3 linked regions of the Homo sapiens genome follow. The protein of the gene in region 3 purifies or fractionates together with the protein of the main gene of each other region. This does not show direct contact. Each region holds a gene or a part of one and is shown on either strand. Other genes may lie near its edges.

What was found. The genes of interacting proteins can lie anywhere in the genome.
Region 1: the proteins of BACH1 (region 3) and FAM83D purify together in Homo sapiens (co-immunoprecipitation; 4 studies listed by BioGRID and IntAct, with this or other methods). This does not show direct contact.
Region 2: the proteins of BACH1 (region 3) and CREBZF purify together in Homo sapiens (co-immunoprecipitation; 3 studies listed by BioGRID and IntAct, with this or other methods). This does not show direct contact.

What each region holds. Positions count from the first base shown.
Region 1 is NC_000020.11:38,921,914-38,929,439, reverse strand, and holds the start of FAM83D (protein FAM83D), read right to left. Parts: upstream 3,024-7,526; 5' UTR 2,998-3,023; coding exon 2,515-2,997; intron 1-2,514.
Region 2 is NC_000011.10:85,662,107-85,668,943, forward strand, and holds the start of CREBZF (CREB/ATF bZIP transcription factor), read right to left. Parts: upstream 3,024-6,837; 5' UTR 2,770-3,023; coding exon 1,705-2,769; 3' UTR 1,496-1,704; coding exon of another isoform or gene 1,480-1,495; 3' UTR 1-1,479.
Region 3 is NC_000021.9:29,301,909-29,308,931, forward strand, and holds part of BACH1 (transcription regulator protein BACH1), read left to right. Parts: intron 1-3,295; exon of another isoform or gene 3,296-3,414; intron 3,415-7,023. UniProt on the Homo sapiens protein: Transcriptional regulator that acts as a repressor or activator, depending on the context. Binds to NF-E2 DNA binding sites. Plays important roles in coordinating transcription activation and repression by MAFK.

The DNA of each region.
Region 1 (7,526 bases), on a different chromosome or scaffold from region 3:
TGGCAAGCCCCACCCAGCTCTGAGGTCACTGCCACTCCGGAGACTTTCTTTCTTTAGCCCTTTCCGCAGTACCTGCAGCAAACTCCTCACTGTTTCCCATCAGCACACTGTCCACTCTCAAGTGTTGGCAAGGATGATGCCTTCCCCTGTGGCCCCAGCCATGGTAGTGTCTGATACACAGCAGGCAATGAGTAAGCAAATAATTTGGCATCTATCGGACACACTGAAAATACTCATTGGATTTTTTTTTTTTTTTTTTTCCGAGAGGGAGTCTTGCTCTGTCGCCCAGAGCTGGAGTCCAGTGGTGTGATCTCAGCTCACTACAACCTCCACCTCCCAGGTTCAAGCAATTCTCCTGCCTCAGCCTCCCAAGTAGCTGGGATTACAGGCACGCACCACCACGTCCAGCTAATTTTTGTATTTTTAGTAGAGACGGGGTTTCACGATGTTGGCCAGGCTGGTCTCGAACTCCTGACCTCGTGATCTGCCTGCCTCAGCCTCCCAAAGTGCTGGGATTACAGGCTTGAGCCACTGTGCCCAGCCAATACTCATTGGATTTAAAGGTAATGTACCACCTTTCTCAGTTAAAACTGCCCAGGTTCCAAATACAGCATCTCGGAGGGAACTGTGGGTAGCTAGACTAGGGCAGCAGGTTCTATCTGGAAATGTCAGTATTACAAAATGCCCGTGAGATGAGGGAGAGTCTGAGCTCCTGGCTCCATCCCCTCCTCACGCCAGCACGTGAGTTTAATAGTTTCCCTCTGGCCTCTAGTTCCAGTGCCCTTTTGCTATCACTAAAATTTGGGGCTGGGCAAAAGACTAGAACAATCCACAGCTCTCACTATACAGACCAGTTCTTTACATTTTTCAGGTTCCAAGTGCTCAAGTTCTACTGGACATGAGCTTTGGGGATGCATACCTACACAAGTCTGCCTTTTCCATCTTTTTAATCTTTTCACTGAACCCGCAAGGAAAATGTCTGCTGCATCAAAAAACCCTCAGTCCACCCAAAGCACCTCAGGGCTGGTAAGAGCCTAGCTGCAGCCCACAACCACTCCCTCAAAGGCAAGGCACTAGGTCACTGTATCCACTACCACTGAAACCCCACCAGTCAGGGAAAGAACATTAAGAACATTGGTGAGAGTCGGGGCTTGGACATGTCAACCTGACAATGCACTGGTATCTTCACCCACACTCAGACACACTCAGGTACCAGCCCTAACAAGTCTTAACATGGCTGGGGCTTTATCTGCCATGTCCCTGGCACAGGCAGATAGCCAGGGAGCTGGGCACTGCCAGTCAGCAAGCAACCTGACCATGGCTCCAGACCAAGGTGTCTGCCACGACACTCTATGTGCCACACCCACCTGCAGGCTGCCTTCTTCCTCCTTGATCCCCAGCACCCTGCTGCAGCTTTATCGAGGCTGGCAAGCAGACAAGACCTCCATTGCACCCATGACCATGCCATACTAAGAGTCAGACAGTAGGACCAAAACCCACTATGAATACAGAAGCCGATCTAATGCAAATGTATCTGCATTTTAGGAGACCACTGCAATCTGGCACAGACCCAGCCTATGGAAAACAAACCCCTTGCCCCAGTTTCCCCTCCAGTCTCTGGCAGTAGAAAAAGCGGCAGGGGGCCGGGTGCGGTGGCTCACGCCTGTAATCCTAGCACTTTGGGAGGCCGAGGCGGGTGGATCACCTGAGGTCAGGAGTTCGAGACCAGCTTGGCCAACATGGAGAAACCCCGTCTCTACTAAAAATACAAAAATTAGCCGGGCGTGGTGGCGGGCACCGGTAATCCCAGCTACTTGGGAGGCTGAGGCAGGAGAGTCACTTGAACCCGGGGGACGGAGGTTGCAGTGAACTGAGATCCCACCACTTCACTCCAGCCTGGGCAAAAGAGAATCTGTCTCAAAAAAAAAAAAAAAAAAAAAAGACAAGAAAGAAAAAGCGGCAGGGCTCTCACTTTGCCACTCTCGTGTTTATCTGCTTTTTACAGCAAAAGATGCATGAAAGTAATTAGCAATAATAATTGCTTCCTAATGCCCCGTAGTTGTCTCTGGAGACCATCTTTCTGGAACTTTCCCTGCGTAAGTTCTTTGGTAATGAGTCTCCTAAGAAGCTCCTGAAAGTGGGATCTAGCGTTGGCTGACAGACAGGGAAATAGGCAATTTTCCAAGTTTGATTTTAACTGAAATTTGGAACTCAGAGTACTTCTGGTCCCTCCTTCAGGGATATGAACGTTAGGAGATGGAACCCGGGCACAATTCGCATCCTTGGGAACCGAGGCTTTCCCACTATCCCCTGCCACGAGGAGCGGCCCGGGGGATCCGGGGGAGACACGCAGAGTGGGGTGTGAGTCGGAGACCCTGGGACCACCTAGCCCGCGCGCGCTTCCGGTAGGGCGCAGAGGAGGTAGTGGCCCCGGCCCGTACTCCCAGCAGGCCTCAATTTCCCATTCTTGAAGGGGGTCTCCCGTGCGACCCAGGGCCCTGGAGGGCCGCTCACCTCTCGCGCCGAGCGGAGCTGCTGGCGCAGAGCGTCCTTGCAGCCGTAGGGGCCACCTTCGCCAGCGCCGCGGGGCTGGAAGTGCGTCTCGACACGCGTGGCGCCGCGGTAGGCGCCCTGGTAGAAGGCGGGCCAGCCAAGCTCCAACAGCGGTGGCTCCAGGTCCGACTGCTCGGGGAAGTAGGTGCCCGAAGAGCAGTCGTGCGAGGAGCCGAACGAGTCCTCGGCCGCCGCCGCCGCCGCCGCGCCCTCCTCTCCCGGCCTCTCCGCCGCGCGCAGAATGGCGTGCACCTCATCGGGGTTCAGGAAACGAGCCAGGCGCTCGCGTCGCAGGAAGGCCGCGAAGGCTTCGGGGCCGCCCGCCACCAGCTCCTCCAGAGCCAGGCGCCGTGACTCGCTGAACAGCTCGGTCGGGTTGGGCGGCCCGCACGGCGACAGGCAGGCGGCGGGCACCTCGTCCAGGCCCTCGGACAGCAGAGCCATGGCGGCGCTCGGACTCGACAGCCCTCGGACAAAAACCGGCGTGCAGTCCCGCTTTATAGGCAACCTTTGAATCAAACAGGCCCGCGCCATTGGCCGCACCTCCCCGCCTCGGCTCTCCCATTGGCTGCTTTCCTTCCAATAGCGGAGCGAGGCGGGGCGCAAGCCTCTACGGCTCCGCCCCCTGATGCGTTATTGGCTGCGATGCTGGGCTTGCTAAGAGGAATTTAAACTTGCAGGGGCGAGGCGGGCCGCAGAGCAGGGACAGAGCGGGGAGAGCCGAGCTCCTGGCCATCCCAGCGCGCCCCCTGCCGGTCGCCCCGCTGCGCGGCCGTGCAAGGCCAGGGACAGTCAGGCCTAGACAACGAGGAGAGGCAGGTGCCGACTCCCGGAGACTCTGGCCACGCTGCTCCTAGGCTCTCAGTGCTTTGGCATGGCCAACCATATCGCCTTTATCACCTGCCTTTAACCATGTATTCATTCATTCAAAGAATACCGGCTCATCGTATTAGGACTGCTCCTTTGATTACACCCTCGGGTAGTCTTCTCTCATTTCATCGATTTTTGCCTTGTAAAACCCCAACCAACCGTGGTTATACCCTACTTTCCACCTGCACCCCGGCAGCCCTACAGGGCTGAAGAAAAAACAAAAAGAGCGTAACCATGCTTACTGACTGGTCATGTTTTAAATTCATAATCCGTAAGACTGCCTGCTAGGAGGCCGGGCGCGGTGGCTCACGCCTGTAATCCCAGCACTTTAGGAGGCCGAGGAGGGCGGATCACCTAAGGTCAGGCGTTTGAGACTAGCCTGACCAACACGGTGAAACCCCGTCTCTACTAAAAATACAAAAATTAGCCAGGTGTCTTGGTGTACGCCTGTAATCCCAGATACTCGGGAGGCTGAGGCAGGAGAATCACTTGAACGCGGGAGGCGGATGTTGCAGTGAGTCGAGATAGCACCACTGCACTCCAGCCTGGGCGACAAGATCGAAACTCCATCTAAAAACAAAACAAAACAAAACAAAAGCAAACAAACAAAAAAACTGCCTGGTAGGCCGCATTTCCCTCATTCTCTCTACCTTTTCCTCTCTGACAGCTTGTCTTCCATGTCAGCAAGAACACAGAAACAGTAAGAAGGGAACGTCCACGTGCGGCCATCTAGTCTACCTTCCTGTCTGCATCTCTGCCCGTATACTGGGCATTGATGAACTGTGCCTGTGCCCATCCAACCCCAACCCCTCTGCCTGGGCATTTCCAGCCCCTCTACTACTCACCAGCATCGCTCCAGCAATCTTCTTCTTTCTCCTGGAACATCAGCTTCCCTCTTTACCGATTCATTTCTATCAGCCTACAAGCATGCTGAAATATTTTTCATCTTAAAACAACCCTCTCTTGACCCTACATTCCTCTAAAGCTCCCCATCTCACTTCTTATTTTTGCAGCATAGAATCTCAGATGTGGCTGGCCATGGTGACTTACACCTGTAATCCCAGCACTGTGGGAGGCCAAGGGAAGAGGATCACTTGAGCCCAGGAGTTTGAGACCAGCCTGGGCAGCATAGTGAGACCCTGTCTTTACAAAAAAATACAAAAGTTAGCTGGGCATGGTGGTGCGCCTAACTTTTAGTGCATGGCAGTGCTCATGATGGTCCCAGCCAGTGGGAAGGCTGAGGCAAGAGATCACTTGAGCCCAGGAGTTTGCAGCTGTAGTGAACTATGATCACACCACTGCACCCCAGCCTGGGTGACAGAGTAAGACCCTGTCTCAGAAAAAGAAAGAAAGAAAAGAAAAGAAAAGAAACCCTCAAACCAGTTGTCTATACTTGCTGTCTCCAGTTCCCTTCCAGCCCTCTTCAATCAGGCTAAAACCCCCACTGCTTTACCAAAACCTCTTGTCAGGTTCATCATGAGTTCCACAGAGCTAAATCCAACAGTCAATTTTCAGTCGTCATCTTTTTTATGTAAATGAAAAGTGGGTCATAAATGTGAGATGTTACCATTATTATTTAGCAACCAATAACCTTTTTAAATGGATGAATGCCTGCCGCTGTTGAGACGCCTCTCCCTCTCTACCTCTCCTCTCCCCATCCCCATCCCTTTGTGAAGTTTCTCAAGAATAAGTGTGGGGACTTCCATGTGTCCCTGCGCTGGTATCCAGGGTCCGGGAGGCTGCAAGAGAGCACCTTCTTTTTTTTTTTTTTTTTTTTTTTTTTGAGACGGAGTCTTGCCCTGTCACCCAGGCTGGAGTGCAATGGCGTGATCTCGGCTCACTGCAACCTCCGCCTCCAGGGTTCAAACGATTATCCTGCCTCAGCCTCCTGAGTAGCTGGGATTACAGGCTCATGCCACCACACCTGGCCAATTTTCTGCATCTTTAGTAGAGATGGGGTTTCATCACGTTGGCCAGGCTGGTCTCGAACTCCTGACCTTGTGATCCGACACCCTTTTCATCCTCTTTCAAGAAAAACACCAACAAAGTTCTGTGTGGGACAAGGACCAAGGACTGTGGTCTGAGGCTGTGCAACCACATAGCTTCTCTATGCCTTTAATGCTCGAGGTAAAAAATGAGAATGGCCGGGGCCTTAGCTGCTGTATTGCTGTCATAAGGTGAAGTACTTTATAGTATCGTACTTCCCCACAATAAGCACACGAGGGGAAAGAGTGGAATGGGGCAGGGGGAAGAGGACAGGACATGTCAGTTCACTCCAAGAATGGGACAGAGGAGAGGGGCACCCTTGTTACATATAAATGTCATGAGAGGCGGGGCGTGGTGGTTCACGCCTATAATCCCAGCACTTCGGGAGCTCAAGGCGGGAGGATCACTTGAGGTCAGGAGTTGGAGACCAGCCTGGCCAACATGGTGAAACTCTATCTCCACTAAAAATACAAAAAATTAGCTGGACATCACGGCGAGCGCCTGTAATCTCAGCTACTTGGGAAGCTGAGGCAGGAGAATTGCTGGAACCCGGGAGGCAGAGGTTGCAGTGAGCTGAGATCACGCCACTGCACTCCAGACTGGGTGAAAGAGTGAGGCTCCATCTTAAAAAAATAAAAATAAATAAATAAATATCAGGAAAAACTTTGAAAATGTATGGAATAAATATATGCTACTATACGGCCTCATGTTAATTTCAAAGAGATTATTTGACAGAATGAAGGTCATTCCCAACCACCCACCTTTTCTTGAATTCATCAGTTTTCACCATCTCCTAGTCTGGGGAGACATCTGCTCCAGGTCTGAGCCCCCAGAGCTCCCTCTATTTCAGGGGTCTCATGGGAAAGCCCTCTGTGGGAAAGGGGTGGGGTAAGGGGGAAGAGACTAGGAGCTCTCACCCACCCTCTATTCCAGGAACCTCCTCTTTGTGAATTCAAGTCAGCACTGTTCAAGTGAGCTCACAGCAATAATCACTCACACTAGCAGGTGTTATTAAAAGGAATTTAATAATTTTAATTAAAAACTCTTAACAGCGAATTCTGTCACAGGCCTTGGCAGCTGGAAGCAACTCCAGGGACATGTGCCCCCTTTGGGATGTGGCTGAGCCACAGTTTTGGACCCAAGGCCCACCGGTGCCGCGTGGCAAGGGGCTACGTGGAAGTTACCTCAGTACGATATCAAAGATCTGCGAAGATTTTTTTTAAAAAAGTTTTAAATATATTAGACTCTCTTGATTGCCATTTTTACACAAAGCTGCTGATACAGTATACAGAGTTTTAATTTTTTTTCACATAAAATACATTTTTTTAAGTGTTCTCTGTACACCAGTGGCTTCTGGTCTGGTGAATTATTGCGGAGGGCTGGGGGTCTGCAGACTTTTCCTGGGTGTGCAGAGCCAGGCCCCGCACGGTGGCACTTGCAATGCCCATGGGAAGCAGGCCCTCTGGCCAACAAGAGAGACCTGTTGGGGAGAGGGCTATAGCTTCTGGCACAGGGGGTCACTTTTGCAGAGTCATCCACTGACCATTGGAGCCTTTGCTCTTATGTGCCCTGGGGCAGGGGAGACCATCCCCAAGTTACAAATAGCAAGAGTTAAATACAGCTTTTCTGGGCATCTTAAAAGGAGCACCCTTCTTAAAAGTACCCCAGTATCCTGCTCTAGGAGAGAGAGCAGGTAGGTGAGAGAGCTCAGGATGGGAAGGTATCTGACACCAACAACCACAATGGTCTTATGTTATTACAAAGCCAGCAAACCGGTGGGGCAGGACAGGGGACACACCCTTGTTAGCTTTTCTAAGCCCCTTGGAAATGGATTAAACAGTGCAGAGCAGTTTTACTTATGCTGTATATTTGATGGAGAATTCTATCCTGAAGTCTTTAGTAGCCCTGGGCCTAGAGTTTATTCAGCTTCCCCAAGCTACTTGCCAGAAACTCACAGTCTGGTGATAACCGCCAACTTTCAGTTGTTTGGGGCATATGATGGTGAGCCATGCAGCACCTGCTTTGGAAGTGGTCTCCTTTAATCTAATGAGGAGCTGCCATAGGACCTGGGTCTCAGCAGGAGCTAGGCATCTGGTTGACTTTGCCTGGTTACTCCC
Region 2 (6,837 bases), on a different chromosome or scaffold from region 3:
GCTCAAGTGCAGTAGTAGATGATTTTACAAAATATGCTGTGATGCACTGGAAACCAAAGACCAATTCAGGTCTCAAATCGTATTATCTAGCAACAAAACATTTACAGTTGTGCAAGAACAAGGATTCCATTTTCATAACCAAATAACAAAATAAAACATTTTATGTGTAAGATAACTTACATCTTTGGACTGCTGGAAAATACTTTTTAATTATGAACATGTTAAAAATAAAAAACAGCAGAAGCCCTGATATTACCTCTTTTTCCTCATTTCTTATACTACCTTTTAAAATAAAGCAGGAAATGTGGCCAGCAGCTGGTCCCGTCTCTTCTGCCCCAACAGCTGTATCCACTTTAGCACAAAGAAAAACAAGGATGCTAAATACGTATATACTTTATCAAGCAGTGATGTTTCACAAAGAATTTCTTAATGCCTCTTACACTGAAGGACACCATAATTCAATTTATACAACTGGTTAATAGATTCAAGGGAATAAATCCCACCTTAGGAAAATAGTACCAATCGTGTCATTTAAGTGGCCAGAACCACTCAATTTAAAAAATTATTTTAAAATAGGACAAATACTTTTGAAACACAGAGAATAAGATTCTTTGTGAAGCCTCACTTTACACGTTTTCATTCACATTTCACAACCTTCAATATCTAATCATACATATATAAATTTAACCTAAAATTTTAATACAACAAAAATAAAGATGTTCAACAATTTATTCAATCTCAGTGATAGGGTAATCACTGCTGGTCCTCAAAGAAACATTAGCCATTCTTATTCTCCAATTAACTAAAACGCAGGAGTCTCATATGTATGTTAATTTCCAACTTCTCTAATGGTGAGACATTAAAATGTTACTCCATTATAGACTGTTTCTATATCTCATACTGAAAACTAAAAGGCATTGTTGATATTTAAGAGATACCTGTCACCTCCAGCAAAATAACTATCACATTTGTGCATGCCCCAAATACTTAACTGTCAACCTCTGAAAAGTTGCCCTAAAATCGGAATTCCAATTTGCACCTTGTACAACTCGGAACTTCCATTCAACTTCACCTGTTTCACTGTCTCCAAACTGTCTCTCTATAAGCAGGTTTCAGTGTACAGTTGGAACCGATGTCATCCAAGGCCATGTCCACACTGGGGACAGAAGAGCTAGGTACACGCAAGTCTGAATAAGGGGACACATTAATAGCTATTTCAACCAGAAGAGGCATCTTAAATACATTCTTGACCAGCACAAGTCTGTTTCCAGGGTGGACAGGGCCCAAATTAGATTTCCCTCCCACCTTCCAAAACAGAAAAAAAAAAAAAAATCACACACACACAAACTGAGATGTTGCCCATTAAAGTAGACAAAGCAGCAGAGCATGAGCGTTACGGGAAGAGATGGATCCTTACCAGGTTGTGAGGCGGGAACGACTGTTCTGTAACCCCTACAACGGAGCCTGGCAGGAAGGAAATCACCTAAAAAAGAAACTGTCAGAGAGATTTAATAGTCACATGTTATCATTAGGAGTTGGTTACTGTGTCACATTCATGCTTTTAGCTAAACACTTTAAGATTCAATATTACTTTTTTTCTCTCCTCTGAAATGTGTCCGGTGAAGATGTCCCACTAAGGTAAGTTTGACATGGTGTAAGGGAGTTGAAAGGGGTAAACGCGGATAAAGAGCAGATTACTTGACCCTACATTTTAAGAGAAGACGACGCCTTCCGGGCGCACGCCGAGCAGAACTCCACCGACACCTTATCCTTGTCCACATGGAGACAGACTCCTCCCGCCGAGTCGTCCTCTTCCAGCAGGTCCTGCTTCTGCTTTCCCACCGGCAGAGCGTAGTCGTGGTCACCGGCGGGCGAGTCTCTGAAGAGCGAGGTGGTCAGCCGCAGTCCCACGCCGCTCAGCCGGCTCAGCAAGCGAGCCAGTCCAGTCTCGTTGGCTAAGACTGCCCGTAGGTAGCGACTCTCCTCCTGCAGTGCCTGTACGCGTTTGCCCAGCTCCCGATTCTCGGCCCGCAGCTCCTGGTTCTCGGCTGCCAGACCCCGGACTCGACTCTCCAGCCCCATCACGTACTCCTTCTTCTTCAGTCGATTAAGGCGGGCAGCGGCCGCCGCCGCCTTCCGGGGACTCTTTGTCGCCGCCTGGTTGTTGTCGTTACCGCTGCCGCCACCGCCGCCTCCTCCTGGGGACTTTCTCCGCCTCTTTTCGGCGCTGCCACTGTCACTGCTGCTGCTGCAGCCTCCGATACCGTTTAACAGCCTTTGCAGCAGGTCAGAGAAGCGCTGCATTTCAGCAGCCGCGGCCTCATCGTCATCGTCCCCTCTCCACAGGCCGCCGCTATCCGAGCCTCCGCCAGACGAGGAGAGAGGCCCCGGCGAGCTAAGCCCGGGGTCCAGGTGCCAGTCCGGTTGCCTGGGGTCCAGGAGATCCGCCAGTTCCAGCCCAGACAGAAAGTCCATATCCTCCGTCTCTTCCCCCGGGAGGCTGGCGATCGCCTCCTCCTCCATCTCCTCGGGGGAGGGCGCGCGCACGGCCACGCCGCCGCGGCTCCCCCTCCCGGCTTCCAACTCTCCTTCGTCGCCAAACTGCTGCTTGCGGCCGGGAGATCCGGCCGCCGCCGTCTCCTCCTCCCCCGCTGCAGCCCGGGTCAGGTCAGAGGGCAGCGAACAAGTTGCAGCCGGCTCCGGGCTCTCACTGCGGGTTGGGGAGTTGCTGCCCGAGGCTGCCAGCAGCTTGGTCAGGCTATGCCTCATGAGGGCCAGCGGCGGGCCGCGGTAGGCCCCGGCCGCTAAGAGTGGGCCTCACGGGCCCCAAGGATCCCAGGCCCCAGGGCGGGTAGCCCCCGGCACTGGCCGAAACGAAATGCAGGGAAAGGTCCGAGTCGCCTCCCGCCTCACTTGGCTAGTCGACCCCCCGCGCCAAGGCGCGGGGAGGGACGGGAGAACGAAGCGGTGAGGCCCTGCGATGACTCGACCGCGCCACCCAGACAACGGCGTAGCCGGAAGTCAGTGGTTTTCGCCCCAGTCCCGCCCACCGCGTTTCGCGCGCCACCAGGCCGTAGTGTCGCGAGATTTCAGGGTGCTTTAGAGTGGGAATAATTCCAGCTTTCTAGTGATGTCATAATAACAGCGGCAAAAATAACAAGTCTCTAGATTTATCCACCCTAATTCAATACCACCCAATACCCAGACTCAACAGTTCAACACAACATTTTGCTATATTTGCTTTATCTTTACATAAATGCTTGTAAATTTTTTTTTTGCTGAATCATCCTAAAGTTGCAGATGAGACACCACACCCCTGCGTACTTCAGTGTGCATCTCTAAAAATAAGGACTTTTTTTTCATAATCATAATACTATTACCAAGTCTTCAGAAAATTAACAATCGTTTACTAATACTATTTAATACCTGGGCCATACTAGATGTCCTCAGTTGGATAATGGATATGCTAGTTACCCTAACCTGATCACTACATTCCATATGTATAGAAATATCACTATGTACCCAATGAATATGACAGTTATTATTTGTCAATTAAAAAAAATTAAAACCAAAGCAAAATGAATGTAGAATACAACATTGCTTACAAAAATTGTCTTCAGTTGTTCTTGCCATTTTTGTAAGTAGATGTTTTCACTTGAGCCAAAATCCAATCAGTACTGACTTACTGCATTTGGGTAACAAACAAACAAAAACTCTGACAAATAGAGCCAGGAAAGGCTATGAAGAGAGGGTACTCATGCTTGTATGCCTGAAAACAAAGACTGTAAAAACCACAACGTTGCACAAAGACCATCACGACCTTATACAAAACCTCTGCAAGGATGTCTGCCCAGAAACTGCCTGTCCAACCTTTAACTGACGTCACCCTTGTTATTGACCTTTGTAGCTAAGATAATTAGTTCAAAACAATGTGTAACCATCCTCATTTTTTTTTCCTTTAAAACTCTTTGTCTTCCTTCGTCTTCCTGAATACACACATAGTTTACTATGGCATGCGTTTTCCCACTGAAATGCTCCATTCTCAAAACATGTCTTTTATTTTAGAGACCTTTTCTGTTTGTTATTTAGGTTCACATCCCACAAGGGATTTCAGATTTGAAGCAGTTTACAAATACAGATATTTAGGTTCACATCCCACAAGGGATTTGAGATTTGAAGCAGTTTACAAGTACATTAGAATATAGTAAAACAAAACATTTTGAATTTTTAAAAAGCAAGGCCAATAAAAGATGAACTAGGAAGAGAAGGATTTCTGAAAGGGGAAAAGGTTAATCTTGGAATTGGATGGATGCAATATCTTACTCAGTTGTTTGAATTGGGCTAAAAATTGTTTCCTGACAGCCCAAACAAAAAAAGAGAAATGAATTTTCCTTTGTTCATGAGTAAAATATACATGAATTCTTTAACTGCTCTTCTAGTTCTTAAATCTTAAAGAAACTTCTCTATAGGATACTGAATAATGTAGTAGATATCCTCGAGGATAGCTGCTTCTATACAGTATTTCTTAGAGACACAGAAAGCAAGGTCCAGGGAAGTTGAACACTGACAGGTCCCAAATATTGAGAAACGTGCCTGGTACTGCATAGGCTTCAACAAATATTGAGTGAGTGAGTGAATAAAGTCTACAGTTTTGACTGAAGCCATAACACTAAAGCTCACCTGAATGAAAACAATTATTTCAAGGTGTGAAAAAAGTATGACCTGTGGTATCTAGAAGAATAAATAAAAGGACTCCTTGTCCTGCTTAACATTCCATTAGGAAAGATTTTGCCAAAGTACAAGAGCACACAGTTCAAGGTGATATATGTATACTCTGGCCTCCCTTGAGTACAGGTGTTTTGTATGGCTGGTAATCCCATCCAACTACATTTTCCCCTTAGGCAAAATTCAATATTATTAACTGATTATATTTTTTAAATTACGAAATTTTGTTTTAAATACACATGATTTGGCTGGGCGTGGTGGCTCACACCTGTAATCCTACCACTTTGGGAGGCCGAGGCAAGAGGATTGCCTGAGCCCAGGAGTTCAAGACCAGCCTGGGCAACATAGAGAGACACCAACCCCCCACCCCCCGCCGCCAACCCCCACCCACTACCATGCCTGGCTAATTTTTTGTACTTTTAGTAGAAATGGGGTTTCACCATGTTGGTCAGGCTGGTCTCGAACTCCTGGCCTCAGGTGATCTGCCCGACTCAGCCTCCCAAAGTGCTGGGATTGCAGGCGCAAGCCACTGCAACTGCCCAGATTCGCTTTTCTTTGATTATTGGAAGGTTGAATGTTTGTCACATGACCAATTGACATCTAATGCGAATAGGATTTTCACTTCCCTAACTCATTTTTCTTTGAAGTAGGGAAAAAATGTTCTTCAGGGAAGATGTTTGTCTTTTTTCTTCTTGATTTATGTGAATTCTTTACATTATAAGGAAAACATCCCTTTGTCTCTTACATTTTCCAACTTTTTTTAAAAATCATTTTACCATTTACTAGGGGTGGAGTTGTAAAGCTGCTTCTCAGGCTGTAATTTTTAAATAGTCAATTTATCAAAGACCAGGCTCAGCAGCTCACACCTGTAATCCCAGCACTTTGGGAGGCCAAGGCAGGTGGAGCACTTAAGGTCAGGAGTTCAAGACCAGCCTGGCCAACATGGTGAAACCCCATCTCTATTAAAAATACAAAAAATTAGAAAAAAATTAGCCAGGTATGGTGGCACATGCCTGTAATCCCAGCTACTTGGGAGGCTGAGGCCCAAGAATCACTTGAACCTTGGAGGCGGAGGTTGCAGTAAGCCAAGATCACGCCATTGCACTCTAGCCTGGGAGACAGAGTAAGACTATGTAAAAAAAAAAAAATCCACTTATCAATTCATTGAATAATCCGTACTTGTCCCACTGACTTCCCAACATGCCATATATTAAATTCTTACATACACTTGGATCTGTTTCTGGTCTTTATCTATTTTATTGATCAGTTCTGCAATTCCAGAAGCAAAATCACTCCACTTTTTATTGGAGTTTATATTACATTCTCATATCTCATATGGCAAGTCCCTCTTTGTTACTTGTACTTTCTTAGAATTTTCTAGCTATACTTAAGTATTTATTTCTCCACATAACTTTAGAAGACTTTCCAAGTTCAAAAAAGCTAGAATTTTTATGGAAATTGCATTAAATTTATTCATTTCTTTCACCTAGTTTTTATGCAAACTTTACCTAGTTTTTATGCAAACTTTGCATAAAATTGATTATTTCTTCCGTTCTATTTCTAAATGGTTATTGTTACTATGTAGGACAGCTATTTGTCTTTTCTGTTAAATTTTTAACTGACTAGTGCACCAAACTTTCTTGTTTTAATTTTCAGCTTATTTATCAATTTTTAATAATTACATAACCTTATACATAATAACTCTTTTGCTTCCTGCTTTGCAATTATTATTATTATCTTGACTGATAATAAAATAGCACTTCCAGATTCATGTCTAATAATAATGTTTGTAGCCAACTTCCTTATCTTATTCCTGACTTTAACAGGAATGCCTTAACTATCTAGCTATTGATTTGAGATTAGTATTTTTATTAGATTAAGAAACATGCGGCCGGGCGCGGTGGCTCACGCCTGTAATCCCAGCACTTTGGGAGGCCGAGGCGGGCGGATCACGAGGTCAGGAGATCGAGACCATCCTGGCTAACACGGTGAAACCCCGTCTCTACTAAAAATACAAAAAATTGGCCGGGCGTGGTAGCGGGCGCCTGTAGTCCCAGCTACTCGGGAGGCTGAGGCAGGAGAATGGCGTGAACCTGGGAGGCGGAGCTTGCA
Region 3 (7,023 bases):
CGGTGAGGGTGGTTAGTATTTACCATTCAGTTAAATCTCATGTGCCATGTGCCTTCTACACCCCTGTACTGTGAGAGGTGATGCTCAGAATAACAGTTGCAAAGCCCGTTAAAATTACCACTTGTCAGATTTTCTCTTCATAGTGCTGATCTCTCCATGACTTACGTTTTAGGAATCACCACCTCTCTTCTAATTTTCTGACTAATGTTCTGTTAATGAGAGAATTGTCTTAACCCTAAAACCTGCATTCCCTGAGCATTCTAGACAGAGGGTTTATTTTATGTGGTGGAACGATGATTTTTGAGATTGTTTTGATTTAAAATATATGTCAAATGAGGTAATGTACCGATGGCCAAGGTATGGGTAATTTGAGTGCAATTCGCCAGAATCCGTGCCCCTTGGAGGGAGTAAACATTTCAGGACTGCAGCTAAAACATTGACTTACACTCTCCTGAAGCCCAGGCACCTGGCTTACACAGTGCACTAACATAACTGAAGTCTGGGTTTGATCACTGTACAGTTGACAAAGAAGCAGTAAGCAGAATGGTTAAAAAGTAGTTCTGGAGCCAGACTGCTTAAGGTCAGGTTCTGGTTGTGTCACCCACTTTAAAGCCTTGGGCAAGCTCTTCTACCTGGTAACTAGTGCCTCATTGTTTCCTCTGTAAAACAGGGGTGGTGATAGTAGAATCTGTATCAGAGAGGTTGTTGTGAGGATTATATGCGTTAATACGGGGTAAGTGGTTAGAACAGTGCCAGCTTTATAAGAAACATCAAGTGTTAGGTGTTATTATCTGTTGTTCAGAATCAGGGAAGTACTTAGTTACACAGTAGTGTTTTATAGCTGTTGAGAGCTGAATTGCCGGCATTGATCACAAGTGAGACTGGAAAAACAACCCGGGGAACACTCTTATGTTAAGTCAGTAGCACCATCTCAAACATACATCCAACTTCTGAGGGCAACGAACACAGGACATAGCTTTTTACTTAAAGGAATCTTAACAGTCTCAGCGGAGTGCTTGAGGTAGTCACTAACCAGTTAATTGAAACTGGCTTTTACGAAATAAAAACACTTGCCATTCTTTGGCTAGTCTTTTCCACGTTGTAGTTGACATTGTGGCCTGGCAGCTTTAGTAACCTGTCCACCCCTCCCTTCTTGTTAATACCAGAACAGAACTAGTTTCTCAGTACATATTCCTGGGCCCTATCCAGTTTGTTGGAAACATTTAGAATGTAAATTTGTAAGCTAATTAGTTTCTTCTAAGTATTATGTTTTCTTTAGATGATATGCCTGTACTAATACAGAAAAATTATCCATGAAATGGATATGAATACAATGGACATATTTATCGTATAGCTTTTTGTACCTGTTAGTAATTCAGAAAGGTTGTGTTATTTTGACCATTCTTTCAGCCAGATTGTAAGTTTCCTGATGGTGAGAATCTGTGTCTTTCTGTTTTATCTCCTATGGCACTCTGAATGTGCCTTGGCTGTGTTTCTTTAATAAACTGTTGGTTGCTGAACTGGGTGGTATGATATGCGTTCATTCTAGTTCTGTGATTTTGAAACTTGGGAATGTTTAACAGATTGAAGGAGAGAACATCGTGTGTGGTACCTTGTAAGTGTGCACTGAGTTGAAATTCTTTTGATTATTTAGCTTTCTACTTTCTGTTTTTATCATTGGTGTGATTATTGAGAAGGCAGCTGGAATTAAGTAATTCTAGTTCATCTCCTAAGATAGACATAAAACTTGTCTTGTGACTTATTTTTACCCATAATTGGATTAGAATTGAATTGAGCAAAATATAATTTGGTTTTCTAGATGTTAAATGTCTTATATGTCTAATACTTTGAATATCACTCCTCTAGAACAGGTTCTTTGTTTTATTTAGGATCAGGGACAGGTTAGAAAATATTCAAATATTCATAGGATAATAAAAAACTGCCCTGAAGCAAACGTGAGGAAGAAGAAATAGTGGTAGCCAGAATCTTGGTTGTTAATGACCAGTGTAGAAACACAGTGGGCATGCAGTGAAATTGGCTGGCAGCTGGTTCCTTCTCAGTACGGGCACAATTTAGAAAATGTTACATTAATGCAGCTGAAATTTTGTGCAGATCATGTTATTTGAAAAATAAATGTAAACACTTTTTGCAGTGCCTTAGGAAAGTCATCGTTCAAACTAATATTTTTGTAATAAACTAGTTATTCCCAGTTTTTTTTTTCTTTTTTTTTTTTTTGAGATGGAGTATCACTCTGTCGCTCAGGCTGGAGTGCAGTGGCGCGATCTCGGGTCACTGCAACCTCCGCCTCTTGGGTTCAAGCAATTCTTCTGCCTCAGCCTCCGTAGTAGCTGGAATTATGGGGCACCCCCCACCATGCCCAGCTAATTTTTGTGTTTTAGTAGAGATGGGTTTCACCATGTTGGCCAGGCTGGTCTCGAACTCCTGACCTCAAGCAATCCACCCGCCTTGGCTTCCCAAAGTGCTGAGATTACAGGCGTGAGCCACTGTGCCTGGCCCCTAATTATTCCCAGTTTCTTTCAGGTAAAGTTTTTTTCACTTTTTAAATTTATCATTTTTTTAGATCAGATCAGTCAGTGGACAGTTGCACTCTACTTCCCCATCCCTCATTAAAGTGGAATTACACTAAAAAAGGTTTTCAATTCCTTTGTAGCCTGGACATTAGTAATAGCCTACCTCTAAGGCTGTAGAGTAAATAGTATAGTAAGGGAAATGTCCCTCCCTCCCCCTACACACCTTTTTTCCAGTTATCTCTTCTTTTTATTGATTTGTCTGCCTCCAGGACCCTAGGGAGGTGTTTTTGTCCTAAGGAGGTGAACTCCTGAGGGTCCTATTGAAGAAATAGGGCGACCTATCCACCCAACTTCCTCTTTACTGATATCTTCACATGCTTATTGCCTTATTCATTTTCTAAAGTGTGCCAGCGTCTTTCAGAAGTCAGCTAAATTAGTGCAGTTGCTCATCCATCAGACAGTTTTGTTATAAAATATGTGGCTATAAAAGATTGAATAAATTTATTAGGTTGTAATTTCATTAATGTGTATTTTATATTTAAATATTATTTTAAAAAATGTACAGTGGTTATCTGATCTTGGCCCAGGCCTCTTCAATTTCCAGTGTACCTGATGTCTCTTTATCAACTGTTTTTCTGAGGTGTATCTCAGCCTGGCCTTGGGTACTCCCCTAGGTAAGAGTCATAATTCAGGTTAAAAGAGGTAAGAAAAAAAAAAGCTTTTGGCTTTTGTAATCTTGTTTTTTTTTTTTTCTTTCACATTAGCAAAAGACTGTTGAAGTAGAGAGCATTTTGCCCAGCTCACTCGGATTCTTTGCTGGCATGCCTTCAGTTTCAGTTGTCATCCAGAGAAGTCAAAGGAAATGCTGCTTGGGGATGAGCATGTAATTACGATTAACTTTCCCTACTTCGTTGTCTCTTTGTGGTAAAAGACTGTCACAAGTGCTATTCAAACTATAGGTATTTTTTTTTAGATTTCTAAAAAGTATATTTTGTCTCTGAGGGCCTCCTGTCTTTGGACTAGTTTGTCTTTTTCCAGACCCCAGAAAGGCTGGGCCACCTTTTCTTCTTTGAGCAGGTTGGCAACAGTGGTCACAAATAGCAGAGGAGCTGAGATTCTAGAGAGCTATCCTACCACTGCTTCTCAGATGCCAGTGTGGAAACAGCCTCTTCTTTTTTGTTGAATTAGCTTGGAACAGCTCTCTAATCTCTGAAGAGTGAGGAAAAACTGTGTTTTTAAGTTTCAAGGCTAAGGCACTGTGTTCTCTTTTCTCCCTGTTCCTGCTGCTGTTCTCCCCCAACTCACATGAACGCATACTTAACTTTCAGTGTATGTGGACAGTAGGGTTGCTAAATTCATGTCAATATTTGTGGCATTCCTACATGTTAGGCATTTGGTTTACATTTAACTTATGAAACAAATGTTTAGGCTTTTATAAGCCAGGAACTTTTCCAGATATTGGCAATAATGAACTTTTCAGAAGTTACAGTCTAATAGACAGGCAAACTATTCCCATAGCATGCTATAGTAGCAACATGTAAAATGTGCTGTGGAACCACAGACTATTAAAAGCCTAAGTTTTGGGAAATCAAGAAAGCCTTAGGGATGTTTAGTGATGAATGCATAGGTTAGTGGAGGAAACAACTTGTATCAACTCAATTTGAGAAGCTTAGCTGTGAATAAGAGGAGAGAGAAATAGATTTTAGTAGGGAGAAGTTGGGTCAGGAAGAGTGTGTGTGTGTGTGTGTGTGTGTGTGTGTGTGTGTGTGTGTATTTAAAAATCCAGTCAATGGAAAAAGGTTGAAGATGCAGGCAACGTCCTTGTTTTGTCCTTGGCAAGTTCCTCTTATGGTTGCAAGATGGCTGCCACAAGTTCAAGTGTCACAAGAAAATATGACTTAAGTTTCCTGGAAGAAGACACACTTTTTTTTTTTTTTTCCTAGGTTGTTGCTATCAGTGAGAAAAATTTTTCCCTAAAGCCTCATAGCAGATGCTACCTTGTCCCTCTCTCCTCTCTTCATAGGTCAGCATTGCACACAAGCCAGTGCCTAAATGAGTCAAGGTCAAGGGGAATAGTACCGCTGTGATTGGCATAAATGGATCGTGATTCATCTTAGGTTGTGGCTGGGGTCTACTTCCTTGGAAGTTGATGGCCTCGGGTTGAGAGTAGATACGTGAGCACAGTCAGGGTTTGGTTAGAAAGTGAGGGGGTGAATGGTGTTGTGCAGTTAACAGTGACATCCTTGTCTACTAGTTCTGCCACCACTACACTTAGATACAAACTTCGGAGGAGAAAAAGAAAATGTGCTTGCCTTTGGATTTGGAATTTTAGGTGACTTTTTTTCCTCTTATATGCCATTTCCTTCTATGATCAAGTAGCACTTTTACAATCAAATCAAATCAATGGTTTATTTAAAAATTATTTAAAAATTGAAAATGCCAATTTTGTCAATAAATATATATAGAAGAAATAATTTTTTTTTTCAATGCTTTAAACATTTCAAAAGTTCCCTGCCATTGTCTTATTCCTTTCAGGGAGAGGAGAACATATAATTATATCTTGTAGTTTCTGATTATGTGTATACTAAGAGGACTACTCTGTCCCTCAGTCCATAGTGCACACCCACCTGTGGTCTCTATGGCTTGCACTGAGTGCTGAGGCCAGCCTGGCTCAGATAGAATTGTTAGTTCATTGGCTAGATGGGTCAGGATTCTTTAGAATGCAAATTCTTGAATCAGGAGTACAAACAGGAACATCTTCCCTTTTCTACACACTCATTCCCCTCCTCGAAGGGAAAGCTGTCCCGTAGTTAGCTTATTCGTCATTCTTTTCAGACTTTAAAATTAATGCCACCTTAAGTTTATACAGTATTCTTGTAGTACTCCTAACTTTTCTGTTTTGCTGTATGTGTACATTGTAGAAAGATTAAATCAAGCTAATTAACATGTCCATTACCTCACTTACCTTTGTGTGTGTGTGTGTGTGTGGTGAGAACCTTTAAATCTACTCTCTTAGCAATTTTGAAATACAGTAGGATCCCCACCCACTGTTTTACTTTCAGCAGTTTGTTACCTGTGGTCAGATGAAGTCCAAAAATATTAAATACAATAGATATTTTGAGAAAGAGACAAACATCACATTCACATAACTTTTATTACAGTATATGGTTATAATTGTTGTATTTTATTATTGTTAATCTCTTACTGTGCTTGATGAAAAAGCATAGTATATATATAGGGTTTGTTACTATCTGCAGTTTCAGGTATCCACTGGGGTTCTTGGAATGTATCCCCTGTAGATAAGGGGGACACCTGTGTATGTTGTTACAAGTATGATCACTGTGTAAAAGCACTTTTGTATTTCATTCTTGTTCCTTCTCAATCGCAGGTCTGGGTGCTTTCTGTGCTGTGAAAGGCAGACAAATAATGTAAATCCTAAACACTTGAGTGTTGTAAATTTACAAAATGAGAATTGCTCAATGGTTGTTTCTTTTTGAGAGTAACAAATAGACTGTGATAAATGGCCAGAGTAGGCTTCTGAACTGGTATTAGTTTTTTGGATAGAATTTAGAAAGACTTGTACTACCAATATAATTTTTGTCTCAGATAAATGCAATAGTATTTCCCTACTCAGTAGTTCCTCAGATGCTATTTAAACTGAGCTATATTTCAGCTTTATTTATAGGCTGCAAATTGTTCCTTATTTGGCTGAATCTTGTGGTTATGATATAATGAAAAGTAGTTACTGAGATCACTGGTGCAAATCTGTAGCTTGGAAATCCTCATTTTAGAAATGATTATTTTGACTCCCAAGTTAAATAGTAAAAAATAGACTTATGTTTTTAGTTTTAGCTATGTATATTGAGAAACTGTGGCCCTACGGTGGCTGTTAGGGATTAGTGGATTAGGTTGTTTTTAAATAAGACATTTCAGTTTAGTATCTCTACTTGAATAAAACAGTTTCAAATTTGTGATTCATATGATATACTGATTGCCCTACGGTAACTTCTGTTTTATTTAATTAAAATTGTTAACATTCTTTTTTATACTCTTAAGCACCTCCCTCCACCCTCACCCCCCTTTTTGACTCAAATTTTATTGTGAGTTGGTGTATAGTTAGGAATTTGAAGAGCACTTTTTTTGTTTATTTTATCTTTTCGGTTACTATGCATACTATGTGTGTCAACTCTTAAACCTGCAGGGGGTCATTTTGGCCATCAACTAGTTTTAGGGCTTTCGCCTCCTAAAGAATATGAATTATGGTTGTAATTTTTACAGTTTAAAAAACAAGATGGCATATGAAGAATCTTTATTTCATTATGAAAATAGAACATGGATGCTTAATCCTCTGTATTGAAAGTAACTTGTAGTGAAATACTTCCTAGTGTTCTCTTCTTCTAGTTGTCCATATGTAGTATGTATAACTATAGACCTTGATGATTTAAGTTGAGCACAGTTTAGTGTCAGGTTCCTTTCAGTGATGCATGAGATT